Regions from separate parts of the Homo sapiens genome. Here region 1 is linked to region 2. Evidence: fine-mapped expression QTL. A gene starts in region 2. The other region holds a variant in brackets. All regions are shown on one strand. Distances are from middle to middle.

Region 1 (11,382 bases), 110 kb before region 2:
AACAGCTGATAACTTTAATGTTGTTTTGAGGAAGAGATTTGATGTTTATTTCATTTGAATATGAGTTGCCCTACTCAATGGTTGCTCCTGATAAAAGGTTTGTCTTAGGTTTTTATTTGCTGCGGTTAACTGATCAGGGCTACGGTTTTTTTTTTTTATATCTAATTAATCTTTGTGTCTGTCTGTGCTCAAAATGAGGCTCTACTTAAATGTTACATTCATGAGATTAATGTCCTTAAAATGGTGTTGAAGATTTTACTTTACTCAGACTCCTACCATTCTAAAATAATACCATGCTCATTTTTTGTTCCCTTCTAATCTTTAGCCACTTATATGTAACAATTTAGTAGCATATACTTATGACATAAAACAGGTTTCCTCATTCCTATGTAAATATCTTATAATCTATAAATCTATAGGAGATACATAATTTTTTAATACTGATTTGTTATAGTTTATCACTCCCCTCCTATACAGTGTTTTCAGTTGTTTTAATTTGGGGAGTTATATATTTACGGTGGGAATAATTTTCCTACTATAACTATAGCTATAAATGTCTTTTTATATTAGCATTTCTTTCTTTGACTATTTCCTTATGATAAATTCCCAGGAGGGTTATTATGATTAAAAAAAATTTCATGACTAACAAAACCAAAACAGTAAGAAAATGAAATTCTTCATTAAAATGAAAAAGCAGGATTACAAATGAAATACATTTATAAAAGACATTTAAAAATGGATGAAAACAAAAATACTCTGTTATTTTCATTAGTTATTAATGCATAAAAATTTGACAATTTCTCATGTTGGGAAATAGGACTGTGTGTGTGTGTGCGTGTGTGTGTGTGTTTGTGTGTATGTGAACAACACACATTACCTTCTGAAGTTAATACAGTCTGCCCTCCATATCTGCAGGTTCTGCATCAATGGATTCAACCAACCATGGATGGAAAATATTTGGGAAAAATAAACCCAATAAAAAATAGCAATACAACAATAAAAAAAATATGGTATAACAACTATTTACATAGCATTTACATTGTATTAGGTATTATAATAAGTATCTAGAGATAACTGAAAGCATACAGGAACATATGCATAGGTTATATGCAAACATGATGGCATTTTACATAAGGGACTTGAGCATCTTCAGATTTTGATATCCGAGAGCGGTCCTGGAATCAATGCCCCACGGATATGGAGGGATGACTGTAATAATGATAACTCTGCAAAGTTATATTTTATACTGAATTAAACAAAGTGGACTATTCTATAAATTAGAACTTATAAAATTATGTTTTATAAATAATTGCCCTGGGTAACTTTTAATTGTTATGTTAGTTTCAAGTTATACACTTTAAAAATCTTTTTGCCCCCATTCGACTTCTTAAAATAATCCTAATGTTCCTAAATTATTTATTTCTTATTGCATATTTCAAAATGTTTATCCAATGCCAGAAAAGAGTGACAGAGTCTCATACATGTGTCCATATGTATCACACACACACCACACACACAGATGAAGCATGGGCCAAATGAAAACACACAGAGATTATTAAGTGAGAAGACCACTGGGAGTCAAATATAGTTGTGGTTATAATCCACAATATAATTAGCAATAGTCAGTAAAAGGAATAATTGCGTGAGTAAAGATTCCTTAGAAGTCAATCATTGGAGCAAAGCCAAAGATTATGGCCCAATATCATAGTACCTATATCTAAAACAACAACAAAAAAACCAGGTCAAGAAAGAAGAACAGTGCTGGCCAGGCGCAGTGGCTCATGCCTGTAACCCCAGCACTTTGGGAGGCCGAGGCAGGTGGATCACAAGGTCAGGAGTTCGAGACCAGTATGGCCAACATGGTGATACCCCGTCTCTACTAAAAATATAAAAATTAGCTGGGCATGGTGGTGTGCGCCTGTAGTCCCAGCTACTCGGGAGGCTGGGGCAGAAAAATCGCTTGAACCCAGGAGGCAGAGGTTGCAGTGAGCCAAGATCGTGCCATTGCACTCCAGCCTGGATGACAGAGCGAGACTCCATCTTAACAAAAAAAAAGAAAGAAGGGCAGTGCTTTCTATTACCATAAAATCACTCCAGGAAGCTAAATTAGGAGTTCTCAATTTGTTAACAAATTTCTTTCAGAATAGAATGAAAAGGGAACCCAGGGACTTTACAAACAAAGTATACCCTTATTTATTTTATGCTACCCAAAACTGGATTAAGATGTAGTGAGATCTAATTTAACTGACTTGATATTACCCCACGTAAAAATTAGCAAAAACTAATAGTACATACATATTTTTAGATTAAAGATAACGCAGAGATTTCAGTGAAATAGGTACTATCCATAGAAACCCAAGAGGACTAAGAGTAATAAAACTCAAGTAAGAATTTAATAGGTATCATACACATAGAACAATAAAAGCCATGAAAACAATGAATTAAATTACTATACAAATTATATTCAAATGATGACAAAAACTACCATTCCAATCTAACCAAAATTTCAATGTTTTGTATATAAAAATAACATAACTAAGCCAAGATCCCATTAATATCTGACAATTATAACTTTTAAAATATTAAATAAGTACCACTAATTAAAATCCACAGATTGTTTTTTCAATTTGGTTATGTACTGGGGGCATACTATGTGATAAGCATTGGCTTCGGACCTGGAATATTAAAATTAATTTAATTATTAAAAAATGGTGCTTATACACTAAGAATCATACACTGACCAAGACATATGGACTAAGTATAAGTGATTGAGAAGCCCTCATCCCAGAGAAAAAGACGAGGTTATTTCAGAGAGAAGGTATAACATAAAGTATAATAAAAGCAAGATGGCATAAAAGCAACAGGTTAGTTTTAGAAAGAAAAAATGACCTGCGATGATCTAAATTTAGGTCACCTGGAGCTGTGAACAGCTGGAAATGAAAACAAAAAGACAGACTGAGGCTGGGTTTGGAGGGCCTTATAAGCCATGCTATACAGTCTAGATTTACCTTGCAAGAAATGGGAAGCCTCTGGACAAATTTGAGTACAATAGTAACAAATTCATGTTTTAGTAAGACAACTGGATACAGACTAGAGGTACTCAAACTAGAGAAGGTGATGGTTATTGCAACGGTCCAGGAGAGAGTTGATGAAGGAGAATAAGCACTACATATTTTTATTCATTTAATCCTCACAGCAATTCTAGAGGTAAAAAAGATTATTATCCTCGGTTTACAGATGAGGAAACTAAAGCACAAAGATTATGTAACTAGACAAGTTACAACTAATAAATGCTGGGTGAAAATCTGAACCCAAATAACTAGGCTCCAGAATTCAAGCATTTAACCACAGTTTTTTTTTTAAACTATTATGTTTTGCTACTGATAAAAACTAGGGTTAAAAAAAACTGTACTTATCAGTAGCAAATCCCAGGACTTTGGGAGGCCAAGGTGGAAGGACTGAACCTAGGAGTTGAAGACTAGCCTGGACAATATAGTGAGACCCTGTCTCTTAAAAAAACACAAAAATTAGCCAGGCACACACCTGCAGTTCCCGCACTCCAGCCTGGGTAACACAGTGAGACACTGTCTCAAAAAAAAGGAAAAAAACAAAACCAAGAAAAGATAGTGTTTTAAGGAGGAAGGTTGGTCACCAATGTTAAATGTTGAAACGAGGCCAAATAGGATGAGTATTTAGAAAATTAAAAAACGATTAAATTTAGCAATTCATTGTTCACCACTGACATCTACAATAGAAACAATAATTTTTGCCTTTAGAATTAATCACCAAACATGTATCCAACACCATTAAGATCCAATACATTACACAAAAGGTTACATCAATGATAGCTTCAACATGTTTTAAAATCAGCAGTCCTGATATTCAAAAATTAACAAAATAGAGCCTCTGAAAACTAATAAATTGTTTTAAATCAACAGAAGAATATGACATTCTGGTAAAGCAAAACAGTATTTTTATATTAAGCTAATGTCGCAATGTGTAATTAAAAAATTATTTATAGATGACACAGTATCTCAGTAAATCTTTAAAACATGTCAAGCAAAACTGTACATAGATCATCTAAAGGGCAAAGACAGATAATTTGCATTTCCTGCCTAAATAATATATATCTGTTGTCTATTTCATAACATACCAAATTAGGTTTTAGTTTTTCAGACATAAATATCACAACACAAAAAAATGTAAATTTCAATTCAGCAAAACATACCATTAGCAATAAAGCAAAAACAAACAAAAAACCCAACAACCTTAAAGAAAATATTTGCAACTTATACAAAGATATGTAATAAACTCATTTTTAAAAAAGAAAAAAAAATCTCCAAAGATAAAGCGGCAAAGGATATGGAAAGGCAATTCACAGATATGAAAATCCAAATGGTTCATCAATATATGAGTGAATAAACATTGAAACTGATTGTTACAAAATACAATCAAAATGCCAATTTTCATCCATCAAATTGACAAAAATCTCTGCTATGACATCATTACACATTCATGTCCAGTGGGTAACAAGATAATATTATCCATTAACATGTAAAATATGCATATAATTTTGGCCTAGCACACTTACTTTGGGATAGAAATTAAACAGGAAAAAATAAATTTTCAATAGGGAAATATTACAGTAAATTATGATACATCCAAATTATATTTTGTAGCTACTTAAAAACTGGCTTAGTTCTATATTTACTGAGAAAAAGTCCATTATGCATTGTGAAGTTAAAAAAAAAAAAAAACACAAGAGTAAACCCTATAATAGCTAGAATGGGAATGAAAAGAGGAGGCCACCAGTAGGCCCTGAATATTTTGTTTGTACTTAGAGGAAAGAAGTATGGATGATGATATACTAATTCTGTGCCCTCAAAGGGACAGGTTTAGAGGATGTAAGAAGAAAATAACACTTGGTCCTTTAAAAATAAATCCAATAAAGTAATACTTATGTTCTAATTGCTATTATCTTCAAAATAAATGGCTATCTGTGTATGCTGAAACATTTGCTTTTCTAACATTTTTTCAGATTGTGTGTGTGTACATATTTTGAAGTTTAAGTTCTGTAATTATTTTTACTCTATTTTAAACAAATAGTAATGGTTGTAAATACTTTGAAGTTTAAGTTCTGTAATTATTTTTACTACATTTTAAACAGATAGTAATGCTTGTAAAAATAGTGTCTTTAACGTATCTTCTCATATCCTTATGTAATGTTATACTCCAATAAAAACAACCACAAATTGTGCTGTTTCAGATAAAGTTCTCCATAAACTTTGCTTGAATCTACCTATTGCCCCAGACGGGCATCCCATCTTCTCCTCTGGAATGCTTTCCTCCATTATTTATTTTCTCCTAGCTTAAATCTAGCCAATTTTTGTACAGCCCCACTGGTTTTACTGGCAACCGCTCATTTTTACAATTATCTTACTAAGTGATTCTATCCCAAATAAGAATTCTCATTAGGTAAAATTAGGGAAAGCAGGCCAGGTGTGGTGACTCACACCTGTACTCCTAGCACTTTGGGAGGCCAAGGGGGTGG[G/A]TCACGAGGTCAGGAGTTTGAGACCAGCCTGGCCAAGATGGTGAAACCCTGTCTCTACTAAAAATACAAAGAAGTTAGCCGGGCGTAGTGGCGGGCACCTGTAATCCCAGCTACTCGGGAGGCTGAGGCAGGAGAACTGCTTGAACCTGGGAGGCGGAGTTTCCAGTGAGCCGAGACTGCACTGCAGCCTGGGCGACAGAGCAAGGGCTCTGTATCAAAAAAAAAAAAAAAAAAAAATAGGGAAAGCAGAATATTTCTATGTGGCAACTTCCTGTGGCTTTCCAGTCACGATGATACGGGGTGGGAGTGCGGGGAGAAAGAGAGACGGTGTGCACACACCTAGAAGGTAAAGCACAATATAAGTGAGGAATAAGACTCCAAACTATAATTCCAGAATGTCAGAAATAAAGCTTGGAGTCTTAAGGAAAACAAACACTCAGACAAAGGATTTCTCAGCAAAGCAAATTTACTTCTGCACAGAGGGGTGCTTCTCTTTGGCCAGTCACCAAAAGGAGAGTTAAAGTTTTTATCCCTGACGCAAATCCTGCCCCTGTGCCCTTTCCCCATTGGCTGGGGTTGGACTGCACAATCTAAGCTAGACCCGATTCTCTGAACATTTGAACTTTTTCTTAGATAAGGTGTGCACATAAGGGAGAGAGGGGAGAGGGGGTAGAAGTCATCTGTGATAAGCTAGAGAGCTAGTTTTCTTCCCAAATAAGGAAAGGAATGTGAGCTGGTACTGATAAGCCATTGGTGCTGTGGCATGCCTGGGCATGTAGTAAAGGCAGAAAGAAAGAAAAAGAGAAGAAAAGGGAAGGGGAGGGGTACTGTGGATTAAAGAATAAAGGATTAATAGGCTATTTGAAGAGAAATCTTGTCATATCCCACACAGAAGAAAAAAATGAAACCAAAATTCTACTGAGTGTGAAGGCTGAGACTAAAGAGAGGCTCCTGACATAGCTGAGTGGAAGTACTATGTGTGATAAAGAAGGAAATGGAGAAATATCTATTTGGTCAGGATAAACTGAGTATGTTTAGTTATCCCCAACTCTTTATCTTCTAGTAATTGTGATATAAGGAAGACTGGGAAGTACAAGTCAACAATTCATTGTCATTAAATCAGAAAGGCACTGAATGCTGAATTTATAAATCAGAAAGCATAAATGATTGAATAACAAGGGAAAATTAAGCTTATCTGCAAATAATGCAAAATAGACATTGAAAATGTGAGGGAAGAAAATTTATAAATTTGTTATGCTAATTTAGGATAGACAAACAAAAAGAGAATTGACTTTGTTTCATGCCTTTCCATAATGGTTTTATTAAATTGATGTTTTTGTTTGCTTTGTTTTTTGAGACAGGGTCTTGCTCTGTTGCCCAGGCTGGAGTACAGTGACGTGATCATGGCTCACTGCAGCCTCAATATGTCCCAAGCTCAATCAATCCTCCCACCTCAGCCTCCTAAGTAGCTGGGACTATAGGCACGTGTCACTATGCCCAGCTGATTTTTTAAAAATTTTATTAGAGACAAGGTCTCGATACATTGCCTAGGCTACTCTTTAACTCTTGAGCTCAAGCAATCCTCCCACCTCGGCCTCCCAAAGTGCTGGGATTACAAGCGTGAGCCACTGCACTCAAATTGATTTTCTAAGGCAGTCAAGAGATATCTAATATCCAGAGTCTTCTGTTAGAATTCTACGTACACTATTAGCTTTTAAAAACCAGTTTTCTGGTATAAAAGTAAGATACTTTCACTATCAAAAACCTATGAAGATAGAGAAAAGCTTTAAAATGAAATAAAAATATTTATAAAAAATTAAGATCATAAATCTCTTTTTTTTTTTTTGAGACGGAGTCTCATTCTGTCGCCCAGGCTGGAGTGTGGTGGCGCGATCTCAGCTCACTGCAACCTCTGCCTCCGGGGCTCAAGTGATTCTCCTGCCTCAGCCTCCCAAGTAGCTGGGACTACAGGCACGTGCCACCACACCCCGCTAATTTTTTGTATTTTTACTAGAGACAGGGTTTCATCCTGTTAGCCGGGATGGTCTCGATCTCCTGACTTCATGATCCGCCCACCTCGGCCTCCCAAAGTGCTGGGATTACAGTTGTGGGTCACCACGATAAATCTTAAACAAATATGGGACGATTCTAACTTAAACTTAAATGTTTTCCCACACAGGAAATACTCTTTTTAAAAAATGGCTGAATAAGGGGTCAAATAAGAGGATGAAAATTTACGGTATATTATTAATTTATTTAACCACTCTTGTAATACCAGGCATTTGTGTTGGTTCCAAATATTTTTCACTATTATAATGAGCACCATAAAGAATATTCTTATATAAAAATTGAGCTAATTTCAGAATATTCCTCTGGAAAGAGTCCTCCAAGTGCTGTTACTTTACAAATAGTATTGTCATGCTTAATGCCTTTGATTCACATTGCTAAATTATTCCCCAGAAAAGTTTTACTACTTTGATTTTCTACTACCAGGGTAAAAGGGATTTTAACTTTCTCTGTGCTTATCTCGTTTTCCAAACTAGAATGACACATTTCTTGCAAGTACTTCTTTTATAGTTTCATACATATATTTATATACACACACTCACATATATATACATATAAATACACACACACATATATACATATATATTTAATTTCAATAGCTTTTGTGGTATAAATGGCTTTTGGTTACATAAATGAATTGTATAATGGTGAAGTCTTTGATTTTAGTCTATCACCTTAGGCCAAATCACCAGCAACACTCTAGGAATGACAACAGTGTCTTAGACATTATCTTCATTACTGTTGTAGCGCAATTAACACATGGATTAGTAATATTAACTAGCTGTTTCTGCTATATTCAAAATTCAAGACTTTGTGCTTGATGGCCCTCTAATGCATTTGCTCATTAGGGCATGCTTTAATCACATCACTAACAAAGTCCTTCAGTCATTTTTGGTTGAAACCATTAGGATATATATCCGCACTGCAGAATGTCCTGAATAGTACTTTTGATCTAGAAAAGAGTTGTTTGCAAAAAATTAAATAAGATAAAATGAAGACAAAGAATTGCTGACTAAATGTAAACCCTTCTATTTTGAGACATCAGGGAGAAAAACCAGCAGAGTTAATGTTTATTTAAAAACTGAATCTAATCTATACCTGCAGAGTTCCATAAAGAGCAATAAAATCTACTGAAAAAGTTATTTAGTTGAGTGAAAAGGAACTACTGATGCCATACTGACTGAGAAACTTCAACCCAATTTCCATTCCCTTAATTGAAATTGCAACTTTTATGAAAAATTCTATAATTCTGAGGGGGGAAAAAAACACCAAGTAGTGTTTAGTCAATCACTACCCAATACATTTTTTAAAGTGAGATGTTAACAAGTATGCACGTGTAATATAAGTTATCAAGTTTTTTTTAAATTTTATTGTTTTTTAAATAACGATGTGACAGGGCCTACACCTAGGTACTCCACATCAAAGCTAAAACTGAAAATCTAATGCTACAAAATTCTTACAAAGTCTATTTTGGCAAGTTACTTCCTCTATCCAACTACACTTGGTATGTTCTCACAGGTGCAAATAAACTTTGAACTCATTTTACGTGGAATAACTTTATGACATTCATTCGTAGTAAAAATGTATCCTCTTAAAGTTGACAAGAATCCATCTTTTAGACCACTGAGTCTATTCATATTTTGTTTCCTTGTATAATCAGCTCTAGCAATATGCAACAAAAGTGACAATCAAAAGTATGGCACTTTTTGAGTTACATGCAATTGGTAATTTCTATGTCATAAAGCTTTCCTGATTATTGACATGTCATTTATGATCAAAGGTTACTAAGAAGAAAAAACAGGATGACGACAATGAAGAAAAAAAAATTAACTGTAAAGAACAAACAAAATCATTTTTGATAATACAGCTAAATGATTTTGTATATCACAGTTAGCATACAATGTAAAAGGAGAAAAGCCATGTTCCTAACATATTTAATTAATTTATTTTGAAAACAGAGAGTCATATTATAGAATTTAGTGCTTGGTCACTCTTCCCCTACACTTCTATCCTAACTTTGGTTTCTTTTTAATGAAGAAAAAGAAAGTCAGCAAAACAAAATGCCAACATTAAATCATTTTGCAAAATTTTATGTCAAAAAAAGTAATAGGAAATACATACATCAAGGGAAATGTTACTATTATTCCAGAACATCTTTTCACTTGGTTCATGGTTCATTCTTCTACATAACTGTGCAGGTACTACGAATGGCTTTTTCCTCTAGGTTTAATGTGGCATTTGAAAGATTATGGCATTTTCAGGAAACCACAATGTGGTGATTTTAGCAGTTATCTGGCTGAAAGTAATGATGTGATTTAGAATAACCGCTCAGCTTATATGCCATGGCAAAAGCCAGCTACCGAGCCATCTCACAAAGACAACCTAATTCTGGATATTTTATTAATAATACATGAGGTCAGTCTAGAGACATAGAGCAGAATTAGAAGAAGCTCCTTTTGAAAGGGCACATACTATATATATAGGTATGTTTAGATTAAATCCTTTTAAGTTCATTGTAATAGTTAGAGCTCATTCAAAAACTGATAACCTTAATTCATCTTAGTTTAGGATAAATGTAATTGCTCCTTGAAACTTTCACAGAAGGAATTTAGGCACTTAAGAATTAAAATAAAAAGCAACCATATATCATACATTAGTAGCTACATAGATAATAAATATGAGAAATGCTAAAAATACTTATGTAGATAATATAATTCATATTAATCTACATATTTTAGTCCATTTAAAAGCTCAATTTACTTTGTTTTACAGAAAGGAAAAGACAAATTTTTCAGATTAAAACATTTTCTACTACAAAATGTTTCTTACAAACTTATCTCAATTAGTAATAAATGAAAAGTGACTGCGTTATAATTAATTCCCATGTTTTTCAAAGCTATAGTCTAAAAAATATATAAATAAGAACAAAACTTTAAAAATACGATGGGTCAATAATACAAATAAAAATAGCACTGTTGGGTGAGAGGCTTATTCTATAAATGACTCACATTCCTTACACCTGAATAATACTTTGCATTTCTGAATTTCTTTCTCTTCTTAACTTCTGAAGCATTACAAAATCATGAAATTTGAAAATTAAAAGGGATTTTTAAATCAATCTAATGCATTGCTCATTCTATGAATGAGAAAACTGGCTCGCAGAGAGGTTATTTGCATTTCTCATGGTTATACAGCCTCTCCCTGGCAGAGACTTAACCAAAATTTCAACCTCTTAATTTTAGCTCTATGCCCTCTCCCCACCATTTTTCCTAGTTAGTTATTGACCGAATTTTCAAGTGAGGTTCATATTCTGTTATTCACTAAGATAAATATTAAATGCACTATCACTGCCCAGAAAAGAGGCAGGATAATCATCCTGGTTTTCCTAGTTAACAAACCTCTCCATGTATGTCAACAATATTAAGGGAAAAATAAGGGTTAAGCTAATGACACACATGCCACCTAGAGAATAAGTGAATAAGGATAAATAAGGGGAAAAAATGAGGTTAGATAGCTTCTCTTCTCTTTCGTCAGAAAACAAAAATGTGAAAGCATTTCTATTCAAATACCACAGTGTGAACTAAAATACCCACATGCCACATATACTCAGGCATTTTAATACTTGAAAAAGATCAGTCTAAGGTTATGTAATTCTGAGGTTATATCTTCTTGAAATTTAAGCCTCAGTTTCATGCACGCTGAAGAGAGAAGCAACTTAATGGTGCAAAACTTCTCAACTGAGGAACAAACTGACATTTATTTTA
Region 2 (11,382 bases):
AGGAAAGGAAAAAAAGAAATATACTGGAGAAATTATCTTAGGCAGAAAGAGTTAATTTCAAGTCTACAATAAACCTTTCTTACGTTTGAAAAAAATATATCTTTAAAATTGAAATCCTACTTCCCATTTGGTTAAATAAAAGATAACCTTTCTCAAACATACAATATATCAGAATCTCTCCAAGCAACAGCTATTTCAACTAACAGACAGTTAAGAAATTTTTTACCATTACAGAATTTTTAAAAACTCCTCTGAGTGGTAATGGCCAGACAAAAAAATAAAATAAATTTTAAAATTAGAATTTAAAACACCAACCTTCAAGAATCCCTTTACAATATCAAATAATAAAATAAAAATTAATTTAATTAATATCAACCATCAATACCATTATATCCAATGTTCTCCCCATAACAAAATCAATATGATTTAATTTAGTTTTATGCTAATATACAATATATGCAATATAAATTTGTTCATCAATTTCATCAATCTAATTCTGTTCATTGATCTGGTACAACAGTGTTAGTACTATAAATATACACAATAGATAACAGATCAATCACTATTCTACTAGTTATTTACAGCTATCCCAGGGCTATGTTTGACCAAAACCGTATATGTCTTGAAGACAGCCAATCAGTCAACACAACTCATCCTCCACTTCCGATTCTAGTTCCAGCTATGTCATCTTGGTTTGTATGAGCCAGTGGTACTCAAACGGGAACATTTTTTTCCCCCAGAGGACAACTGGCAATGTCTGGAAACAATAGTTGCCACAACAGTGGAAGTGGAGGTGGAGGTGAGGCTGGGGCAGGTAGGAAAGATGCTACTGGCATCTAGTAGAGGAAAAGGTTGTTGTTGCTAAACATCCTACTGGGTACAGGACAAGCCTCCACAACAAAAAATTATCCAACACAAAATGCCAATAGCGCCAAGGTTGAGAAACCATTAACTCGTATATACAGCCACAATTTGACCTTATTCTATTTTTCCAGGCTTATCTCTTCTACTTTTACTCAACACTGATCCCCAAATATAAAAAAACAATTCCAAGTCTCAACACTTTTAATTTTTGCCTCACCAAGATTGCTGTTTATCTAAATCCTTCTGTTCATAGTTCCACTCTTACCTCCTCTCCTCAATGAAATTGTTCTACATCAATCTAATCTCATTTCCTATTAAAGACTTGAACTACACAAGTGATCAACCATCCTTTGTATCAACTATTTTATTTAATTATTCTAATTTTTATTTTACTTACATGTTATTTTACTTACTTATTCTAATATTATTACTACTGTTTTGTAAATTCACCATAACATCTAGCAAAGGGCTAAACTACGGACAATCAATGAACACATCTTGGTCCACTTATTCAAAGTCAGATTAAGCACAAAATACCACCAAAGTCTCAGGCTGACACTTCTCATTAAATTATTTCCTGGCAATATGGCCTAACTAAACTAACTTTTGATCAAGATCTAAAGTTAACCCCATTTTACTTTGCCTGGTGGGGGATAGGGGTAGAGAGCATGGCTAATCTGTCTGGTTAATAGAAGTAATACATGTCTGCATCTTTAAAAAGATGTAAACATTCTTTAAAACATTCAATTAATGTAGCAGATAACCAAATGTAAATAAGTCTCCTATCATACACCCAACCCTATGCCCAAGTCTCAAATATCAACACTTTAACTAGGTAAAACCATGAAATTGCTAATATTTGACTGTGTGTTTTGGACCTACAAAACTGGTAATTCCATATAGTTCAACCTAACATTTCTACATATGGTTCTTCTGGTGGTTATCACCATAATTCTAATAATGCATATATATCCTATTTTAGGACTTACTCATTTCAAACTTTATTGACTGCTTTCAATCAAAAATGAGAAGCTTACTTTTGCTTTTGCATTAAAAATAAAATATAAACTATCTTCAGTTTCATAATTTTCTAAAGGTACAGGCTCGTAATCACTTGCCAATCTTATGGGTGGGTCATTCTTTACCAATGTTGATTTGTTTCTATTTTATGATAGAGTTAAATTATGTTTATCTGCAAATGTTTTCTATATTTATTCTTAAAACCAAACAGAAATATAAAAAGTTTTATAGTCAGAATTTCAGATTTCAAGATGAAGGTAAGAAGAAATTGATCCACGGAATCCAGTTAGCCAAAATTAAGGCCAACGAATCTAACCACTTTAATATTAAGTTCTAAGGAAGTCCGTAGTTCATTCAATGAGTCATTTCTAGAAGTTGTTTTGAAAGAAGATATGATCAGACAGATGTTTAGCTACCATTTCTCTACTTCCAATTTAATCTCCTATTCGTAAGTAGGGCTGGGAATCCACAACTTCAACATGTTTGGAAACCAGTGATAGGACTAATGTCTTATTCTCTACAAGACTCCAACTAAATATATACTATCTCAGGCACAGAAAAGATTCAAATGGAAAACAATGGTAATCTAGAGTAAGCGAATATCTCAGCTATGCAGAGCATCAATGCACCTAAAACAAGAGTCAAAAATATGATTCAATTTCTGTTGACTACTAATCATTTTAAATACAATCATTTTCTTCTAAATTCCCTTTTACAATAAATACCAAGAACTATACATACAAATTTGTGACCTGAGACCACAGATCACAAATTTAAGCTCCCCAGGGGGCCAGGAAGGTAAATTATGAGTGCAGCATACTAGATATTATATTACAAGAGGGAACAGAAAGTAAATATTTTTAGTGTGTTTAAGGGATATATAGATATATCAACCTAACAAAACTCATCCTATCATTTTTCACAAATAACAGTTCTCTTCAACTATAATTAGGATTTAACAAGGTCAGAAATCTCTACTTAGCTCGATATCATAAAATATTTTGAGAAAGTACTTTATGTTTGTATCAGATTGTTTTACCACTTGAAAAAGAAGTGATACCTGTGAATATTCCATCTCAATGAACAAACCTTGGAAACAAATTGTCCATAAAGTCAAGATTTATTGTCACATAATAATGTAATACTTAATGTAAGTTTTAGAATTGTTCCCATATTCAAAGAATTCGTAACTTCCACGACCCAACTATGTTTGTCAAAGTTTACAACCACAACCATAACAAACCAAAACTACATCCTAGCCAGGAATATTCTTATCTGCCAAGGTCTTTACCAAGAGAACTAAGATTTAAATTTTACCTCCTTTCCCTTCCCCTTCCCTTCTTTGGAAATACCAAATATCAGCAAACCAACTAAATGGGAGATAAAGAGCTGAGAAGCAAAGGATAAAAAAACAGTTAATCAAGATAAACTTATCAATTTTTGATTGCTGCGGATGAATTCAATTAGTAACCAAATAGTCAGTTTCTGTTTAAGATTCCGTCCATCAACTCTTGGGATCCAAGCAGATAAACAGACTAAATTCTGAAGTCAAATCCATTGGATCCGTTACTGCCTGAGTGACCTCATGCCAGTTCTTTAAACTCAATACCCCTGTTACCTGTAAAATGGTATCTCCTTCACTAAGTTACTGTGAAAATTAAGTGAGATTATGCAAACAAAAAGTTATCAGTAAATCACAATGCAAATTCTGCTGTTGATGCTACTAAAAGTAGCAACAGTAATATAATTTCGTTCATCCCTTCCTACTATCCCTAGCAGGAAAAAGACAAGGGAAAACCAGAAGAAGGAGAGATGTGACTAACCACGGCAAACTCTCTGGAAGTATATTTAAAAACTGTTGAAGAGATGAAACTGGAAAGGCTTTTACTTCTCATTTTATTTAAATTTTCATCTCACTTTATTAAAATTTTCAAAAGAGGTGGAATTACACATAATTTTCATTGTTCATGTTTATCAGTATTTTTCCCATAAAACATTTAAATTAAACATAATTTTTGTTTCTCAGATTCCTTCAATTGAAACTGTATATATACATAAGGTACACTGAACAGAAAATACAAAGGAAAATCATACTTTTCTGTTTTCCAGTTTAGTACAATGTGAATATACGACCTTTAAAAAAAGTTTTTAAAATTACTAAATATAGTGAGCAAGCATGCATGACTTATACTTCAGAGACATCTGAAAGGCCCAATCCACAAGGTCCAGCACCTACTATAATTTGAAGTGCAACTCTTACTCTGGTCAATTTTATTCTAGTAAAAGAGCTAATACACAAAAAAAGCAAAACTCCCCTAAGAGATTGTCAAGTGATCTGAAAAAAGAAGAACCCTGCTCAGGGACTATTAATGGTCCACACACCTCTCAGGATACTTTTCTACTTCGGGATATCTTTCAGTTTTTTCCTCTATAATATAAGCATAAATATATTTTAAGGTGTAAAACAGAGAAATCCTTTTGCATCTTTGGAAAAAGTCCTTCCCCTGACTGCTAATTATCTCTGAGGAAAACAGAAGCAATTATAGGTCTAGTGACAGGATCTAAAGGCAAAATGGGAAATCAAATGGACAAAATAAATGAAGTTTACGTGCTTTCACTTAAAATTGGCATTTTAATCAAAACCGATTTAAAAAGTCTAAAAATAAGCCTAACTCCAGAAAGCTGGGAAAGGGGAAGAGAGAAGGAAATATTTACCTGAGGCATCTCCAACTTTAAAATCACTGTCATCTGAACTATCATAATCAAGAGCTTCCAGCAGAGAAGCTGCCAAAGGCTTCACCTGCCTCCTCTTGGAGCTGCGATCCACTGTGAAGAGAAAAAAATTACATTGTCATTCATAATCACACCAAACACAGGGGAGAGTTGTGGTGCTAAGAGAACATAAAGATGACCTCGCACAAGGAATTTTTGTCTAACTGAGTTCTCAGCAAAAGGGGTCAGGAGAAGGTTGGGGTGCAGAAGCAGGGTGGGGAGGGCTGGACAGCTCCACGGGCAGTTTCAAAGGCAGCTCCAGCCCTGATGCTGCCAACGCCAACTCAGACCAGCTAAAATCGAAGCTGACCCTCTTGCTCATCTTTTCGAGATGTTTCTGCACCTTCCTCGTAATCCCCCACTTAGACATCGTAACAGTCAATAAAAACGGCAAAAATCAGGGAATAAAACAAGCGGGCTTCATTCCCGCGGACCATGGAGGGCGAGGGTCCACCAATCCTGCTTTCCCGCAGGACTCTCCCACCCCTGCCCTGCTCCCACCGGCCCTGACTTCTAGAATGGCTGAAATGGACCTCTCGCCGCAGAGGCCTCGGATACACTTACTAAGGAATCCGTGAGGTGGTCGTTTGGAGAAGACTTAGGGAGAGGCTGCAGGAGCCCAGGCAGCGCCGAGGTCGGGGACTGGGGCCGCGAAGACAAGTCCGAAAGATGCTATTTAAAACCGGCGCGCAGCCAGCCGGACAGGGGCGCTCCCAAGAGTAGCCCCGCGGTCCCCTAACCCCCCGCCCCCCCGGCCTCGCCTGGCCCTGGCCGCTCGAGCCCCTTCCCACAGCGCTCCCTGGCCGGAGAAGACCTCCGGCCCAGGCAGCGCAGTCAACCCGGCGGCCCCGGGGAGTTAATTTCTCCCGTTAAAACTAGAAGAAAAAAAATTAAAGAAAGAAAAACTTTATTAGCCTGGACCAGAAGCAACGAAAGACCAGAAATTGCACAGCGCGAGGGCGGCTGCCTCAGACAATAGGGAAAGCAGCGACCCGGATACAGCTCTGAAAAGGAAGTGAAAACACGAGGCTGAGCGCAGCCCTGAGAGCAGCAGGAATTGAGGGCGCATGCGCAGGACTCGCCCCCGCGCACCCTTCCCGAGCAGGAGCCGAACAGAGCCGAGTGAAAGCCCAGGGAGCCGCGCGGAGGCGAGCGGAGCCGAGTAGTGCCAAGGCGGAGCAGAGATCCCCGCCAAACCCTGTGCAATTCCGCCCATAAACCCCAAAGGCTCCGCCCTCTCCGCGCCTAATTCACCTCCTGAGTCCAAATCCCTGGGAGGCCAGTTTTTGTTTCTGATCTGTTTTTTAAGGATTTACTGAGTAAACGTTCCACAAAGGGATGTTTGCTACCTTAAGCCACTACCAATATTTAAATGATATTGTCACCGGTAGAGGATCGTGACTGCAAGTTGTCCAGGTTCTTGGCGTTTTTAACAAAGAATTGGACAAAACGCCCAGCAAAGCAAAGAAAGAATGAAGCAACAAAACAACAAAAGCAGGGACTTATTGAAAATTAAAGCACGCTCTGTACGGAAGCGACCTGAGCAGCGGCTCAAGGGCCCGGATACAGAATCTTGAGTCCAAATACCCTCTAGAAGCTTCCTATTGGCCACCTAATGCTCACCTCATGTAAATGAAGTAACGCGCAATCAGTCTGATTGGTTGCAGAAAGCAGCCAACCAGAGGCTGAAGTGAAGTTACAAAGGTCATGCTCCTGTGCAAACATTGGTGCAAAAAGCAATCAATCAGAGGCTAGGGTGAAGTTACAAAGTGGTATACCTCTATGCAAAGGAAGATTTCCCCTGCAATCAGTTTGATTTCTTGCAGATGGTGAAGTTACAAAGTGATACTTCTATGCAAAGGAAGACTCTCCTGCAATCAGTCTGATTTGCTGCCCACAGCCAATTTCCCATCTGCCCTGCAGAAAAAGTGGGGGTTTGCAAAGGGAGTAGCCTCTGGTCCTTTTGTTACTTAGGCATGGAAAGTTAGGGGTTTCCTTTCAATTTAGTTCTTAGGAAGTCGGAGTGACACATCCTTAGGTTCCCTGCCTCCACACCCTATTCTCCTGCCTCACTCTCACCCAAACTATCATTGCCATGTGACCTCTCAAACTTTTCTATTGTGCTATAGAAACTTCTATTCCAAAATGTATAACCTACTTAGTAAACATTTTTCCTTTTCAATGCCCATTCTTTTTACCTCCTCATCTGAAATAGAAACAGTTACCCTGCAGCCCTCTCAAATGAAAACCACTCATCCTTCCATACTTCATTTTCTCAAGGTGCAGAAGTGGCATCCCATGCTTAATACTCCTCATTGCCTTTCAGATATTTATTCTTCCAGTTAAAATCCTAGGAACTTGGTTATTTTAAAAACTCCACTCTGGGAATTTCACTTCCATTCTACTTTAAACACCAACCATATCATGGACTGATAGTCTTATCTATGAAATTATAAATCCAAATATTCCACTGTTTGACAATAGCCTTTTAGATTTATTTGGAGCAATTATGCTGAATCATCTAAAAGAGAAATTCAAAATCTGGCATTCGTGTTTATGTAAAACTAATTTCTAGAAGGAGATTTTCAGAATCAAAATGTATTAATTCATTTACTTTAATAAATAACACCTAGTTGCTCTAGAAAAACTGTACTGCCGGGTGCGGTGGCTCACGCCTGTAATCCCAACACTTTGGGAGGCTGAGGCGGGTGGATCACTTGAGGTTGGGAGTTCGAGACCAGCCTGCCCAACATGATGAAACCCCGTGTCTACTAAAAATACAAAAATTAGCTGGGCGTGGTGGCACATACCTGTAATTCCAGCTACTTGGGAGGCTGAGGCAGGAGAATCACTTGAACCTGGGAGGCAGAGGTTGCAGTGAGCAGAGATCACGCCACTGCATTCCAGCCTGGGTGACAAGAGTGAAACTCCGTCTCAAAAAAAAAAAAAAAAAAGTCTGTACTAATATATATACCACCAAGAGTGGATAAGAATTCTTTCTAGTTTTCCAAACCTGTGGCCATTGGATATCAGCAATCATTTTTTTTTAACTTTTAATTTTGAAGTAATTTCAGATTTACCAAAAAGTGCAATAATAATACTGAGTTTTTGTACATCCTTCACCTAGCTACCACTAATATCAGTATCTTATATAACCATAATACATTTATCAAAACTAAGAAACTAACATGAGTACAGTTTTGTTGACTAAACACTTTATTTATATTTCACTAATTTTCCTACTAATGTCCTTTTTTCTGTTCCAAGATCCAATCCAGAAGACAATATTGCATTTAGGTTATTAATCTTTTGCAATTCATGTATTGAAAGAAAGTAAGAGAAGGAAAGAAGGAGAAAAGGAGGGAAGGAAGAGAGGGAGGGAAAAAGGAAGAAGAAAAGTAGGGTAAAAAGAAAAGAAAAAAATTACCTAATTCCTTTTTTTGACCTGCATTCAATAAACATGGAAAGAACTGCTGGTTGTTTCCCAATACCCATTATCTCCTTTTTCTTCAAAAATGGAAGCTCCAAATTTTAACTGGGCATAAGTTTTCAAAGAATAAAGACATAATATACCAACTTTCTTGATGTTGCTTGGAGTTATGCAGTTAAGTTCTGGCCAATTGCATGTCAGCAGAAACAGTACGTGCAACTTCCAGGAAATGATATTAAATGAAGGGGCTTGAACTTTTCCCTCCCTTTTGTGAATGCTTGTTATTGCTTTTTCTTGCCTAATTGCTCTGCCTAGAACCTGCAGAACATTGTTGAATAAATGTGGTGAGGGAAAGACTTCTTTGTCTTGTTTCTGACTTTAGGAAGAAAACTTTCAGTCTTCCACTTAGTCTTATGTTATCTATAGTTTTTCAAAGATGCCCTTTTTCAGGTGGAGGAACTTTCCTGTTCCTAGTTTGCCAACTGTTTTTATCATGAAAGAGCTTCGAATTTTATTAAATACTCTTTCTCTGTCTATTGAGATGATCATGTGATTTTTGTACTTTATTTTTTCAATATAGTATATTACTATATTGCTTGATTTTTATTTGTTTAATCAACCTTGCACTTCTAGTATAAATTCTACTTAGTCATGTTGTATAAATCTTTTTATAGATGCTAGATTCAGTTTGCTAGTATTTTGTTGATTTTTGCACCCATATTTATAAAGGAAATTACATTTTGATGTCATATAAAGAATTTGTCTTTATTGGTTGTAAACTGGCTATAATAGCATCTCCAATAATATTCTGCTGAACATCTTTAAGGCGTATGTGATAAATTACTCTTGGCATTCTTAACTCAGAATTTTTTGGGGGAGCTGTAGGGGGATGGAGTATTGCTTTGTTGCCCCGGCTGGAGTGTGTAGTGGCAGCAATCTCAGCTCACTGCAACCTCCGCCTCCCAGGTTCAAGTGATTCTCCTGCCTCAGCCTCCCTGGTAACTGGGATTACAGATGCCTGCTACCATCCCTGGCTAAGTTTTATAATTTTAGTAGAGACAGGGTTTCACCATGTTGGCCAGGCTGGCCTTCAACTCCTGACCTCAACTGATCGCCCACCTCAGCCTCTCAAAGTACTGGGATTACAAGTGTGAGCCACTGCACCCAGCCTTAACTCAGAAAATTTTGAGTCTCCTAATGCTCTGCCATCTTCTTGGTAGAATATTTATGTTATGTAATCCATCATGTTTCTCTTTTATTCTAGTTGCCAGGTATTCAAATTCAAGATATTTATGCATGACTACACAAAGAAGAAGAATTATATAATAATTATCATTTCCAAAAAACAGCGAGCACAAACTGCCTCAATGTAGGATTTTGCCAAATAATATTCTTAATGTCCACAATTCTGTCTAATTAAGCAAACTAAATATGACTGCACAAGCATCAGTAATAATTATGAAAAGCAGAGTTCTATATTCAGAAATGGTCTTTCAAACTACTCCAACAAAAGATAGTAAAATAAATAGCTTGTTGTGGACACCTACTGTAAGAAAAAGAAACAAATATGTATACAAAAGACAGCAAACTTAAGAGTCTGGAGATCCGAATTTTGGTCTAGGCTTGGCCACTGAATTTGTGTTACCCTAAAAAAAGGCAACATTGAGCCTCTGATTCATCACCCAGAATCTGGAAATAATATTAATAACCTGTCTGGTTACTTAAAGTTTTGAGAAGCAGATAACAGTGTACCCTATTTCCAAAATTACTCTAAGAAAAAAGTCTTTTAAATCCAAGAAATTAGAGGACATGCAATGAAAAAATGATGTAAGAGAAAAAGAAAATAAGTTAGAATTAATTGTGAATAATTGTCAACACTGAGATTGTGGGATTTAATACAGTTTTATTAAGCAAGGATATGCAAACTAGAGGGGTCATAATTCTAAATTACGGTAACCAAATCCAAGATGTAGGGGGTAAAGAGATGAAGTGCCTAGGGAAAGTAAAATAAGATAAATGAAGAAAAAAATGAATTGTCTTATTTTGTTGAGAGAGAAACTGCAGATCCTGATTAATTTTTTAAGAAACCAAGAAAGTAAAATTAGTTTGCTGTAAATCTAAGGATAATAGTGCTGGTTCACAACTAATTAAACTAATTGAACTTGTGAATTACCTCACTACCCTCCCCAAAATACACAGAAATCACAGAAGAAATATACAAATAGAAATAAATCCATAAAATCATAGCATTGCTATAAACCTGAGAGTAATGTCACCAGCAGACTTTTGAGGGCTATGGAGGAATTTTGACAGTTCTGGAAGTAGGTCCACATTGCCAACAAAATCCAACAGACTAAGGAGCTAATAAATTCATCCAGGTGATGAATCATCAAAGAGAAGAATCACTAAAGTGAGTTTTTCCAATACATTCTCTGCATAACGCTTAGGTAAGAGACAATGAGGGTTGTGAGAAGGGCTGAGACTTGGACAATAGACTGGATAATTCATTAGAAGGAAAAGAGCCACATAGTAATTCTGTTGTCAGAGGAGCTGAAAATAGCATTTCTCTCCTGAATAAAACTTCAAATACAGCTCTACTAAGGGGGAAGTCTAACTTCAGAGATTACCAGAATGGAAAACAGGTTTATAGGAAGGAGACTGATAGTAACCTCACTGACTTTCAGTTGTCTTAATAGCTGAAATAGGAAGATCCAGCATAGAAACTACTCATAAATCATAAAGAAGAGCCTACTCACATGTAACCTCCCTATACCACCAACTTCCTCAACCCTACAAACAAACACACAACCATCAGAACCAGTATACCTATAATGAAAACTTGCATTTATTCTCTGCCAGGTGAATAGGGCTTCTTATTTGGACAAAGTACATCAATTCTGGCCATCAACACTACGTATTATATACTATGAACACAAATATATATAGACAACCAAGAATCATTAAATATTTAAATAAAACTAACAACATTGGAGAAACCAAATTTTTAAAAACTTTAAACAATTACTTAACTCAGATGTATTAGGTATCCCATGGGCATCTTGATATGTAGAAAATGTAAGGGAGGCAGAGGCCATGTTCGTGTAGCTGTAACAGCAGAAAAGAAGCTCAATCATCTATAAGAATAGAATCCATATTCACTAGCTTAATTCAAAGGTATAAGGGCAAGATGGAGGAGCAGTTGTGGAGAGGGTTAGCAGCAACAGCTGCACTAGTTTTCTGACCTCCAGATCATAGCTACAGTTATATGATCTTGAAACTGAAAATTTCCTTGAATC

What was found.
Region 1: its variant is fine-mapped to the expression of PHF14 in lung (TOPMed, PIP 0.91).

Annotation. Positions count from the first base shown.
Region 1 is chr7:11,077,871-11,089,252 of GRCh38, reverse strand. The region is part of intron 16 of PHF14 (PHD finger protein 14); the gene reads right to left. Among named protein-coding and RNA genes, the nearest start is that of PHF14, 110 kb to the right of the region's middle. The variant G/A (reference allele first, on the strand shown) is at 5,552.
Region 2 is chr7:10,968,163-10,979,544 of GRCh38, reverse strand. PHF14 (PHD finger protein 14) reads right to left here and starts at 5,673. Exons shown (of 18, transcript NM_001007157.2): 1 at 5,221-5,673; 2 at 4,600-4,710. The coding sequence starts at 5,221. LOC107986767 (a long non-coding RNA gene) reads right to left here. Exons shown (of 3, transcript XR_001745091.3): 3 at 11,111-11,191. RefSeq lists silencers at 4,829-4,878, 5,859-5,918, 6,429-6,478 and an enhancer at 5,609-5,903.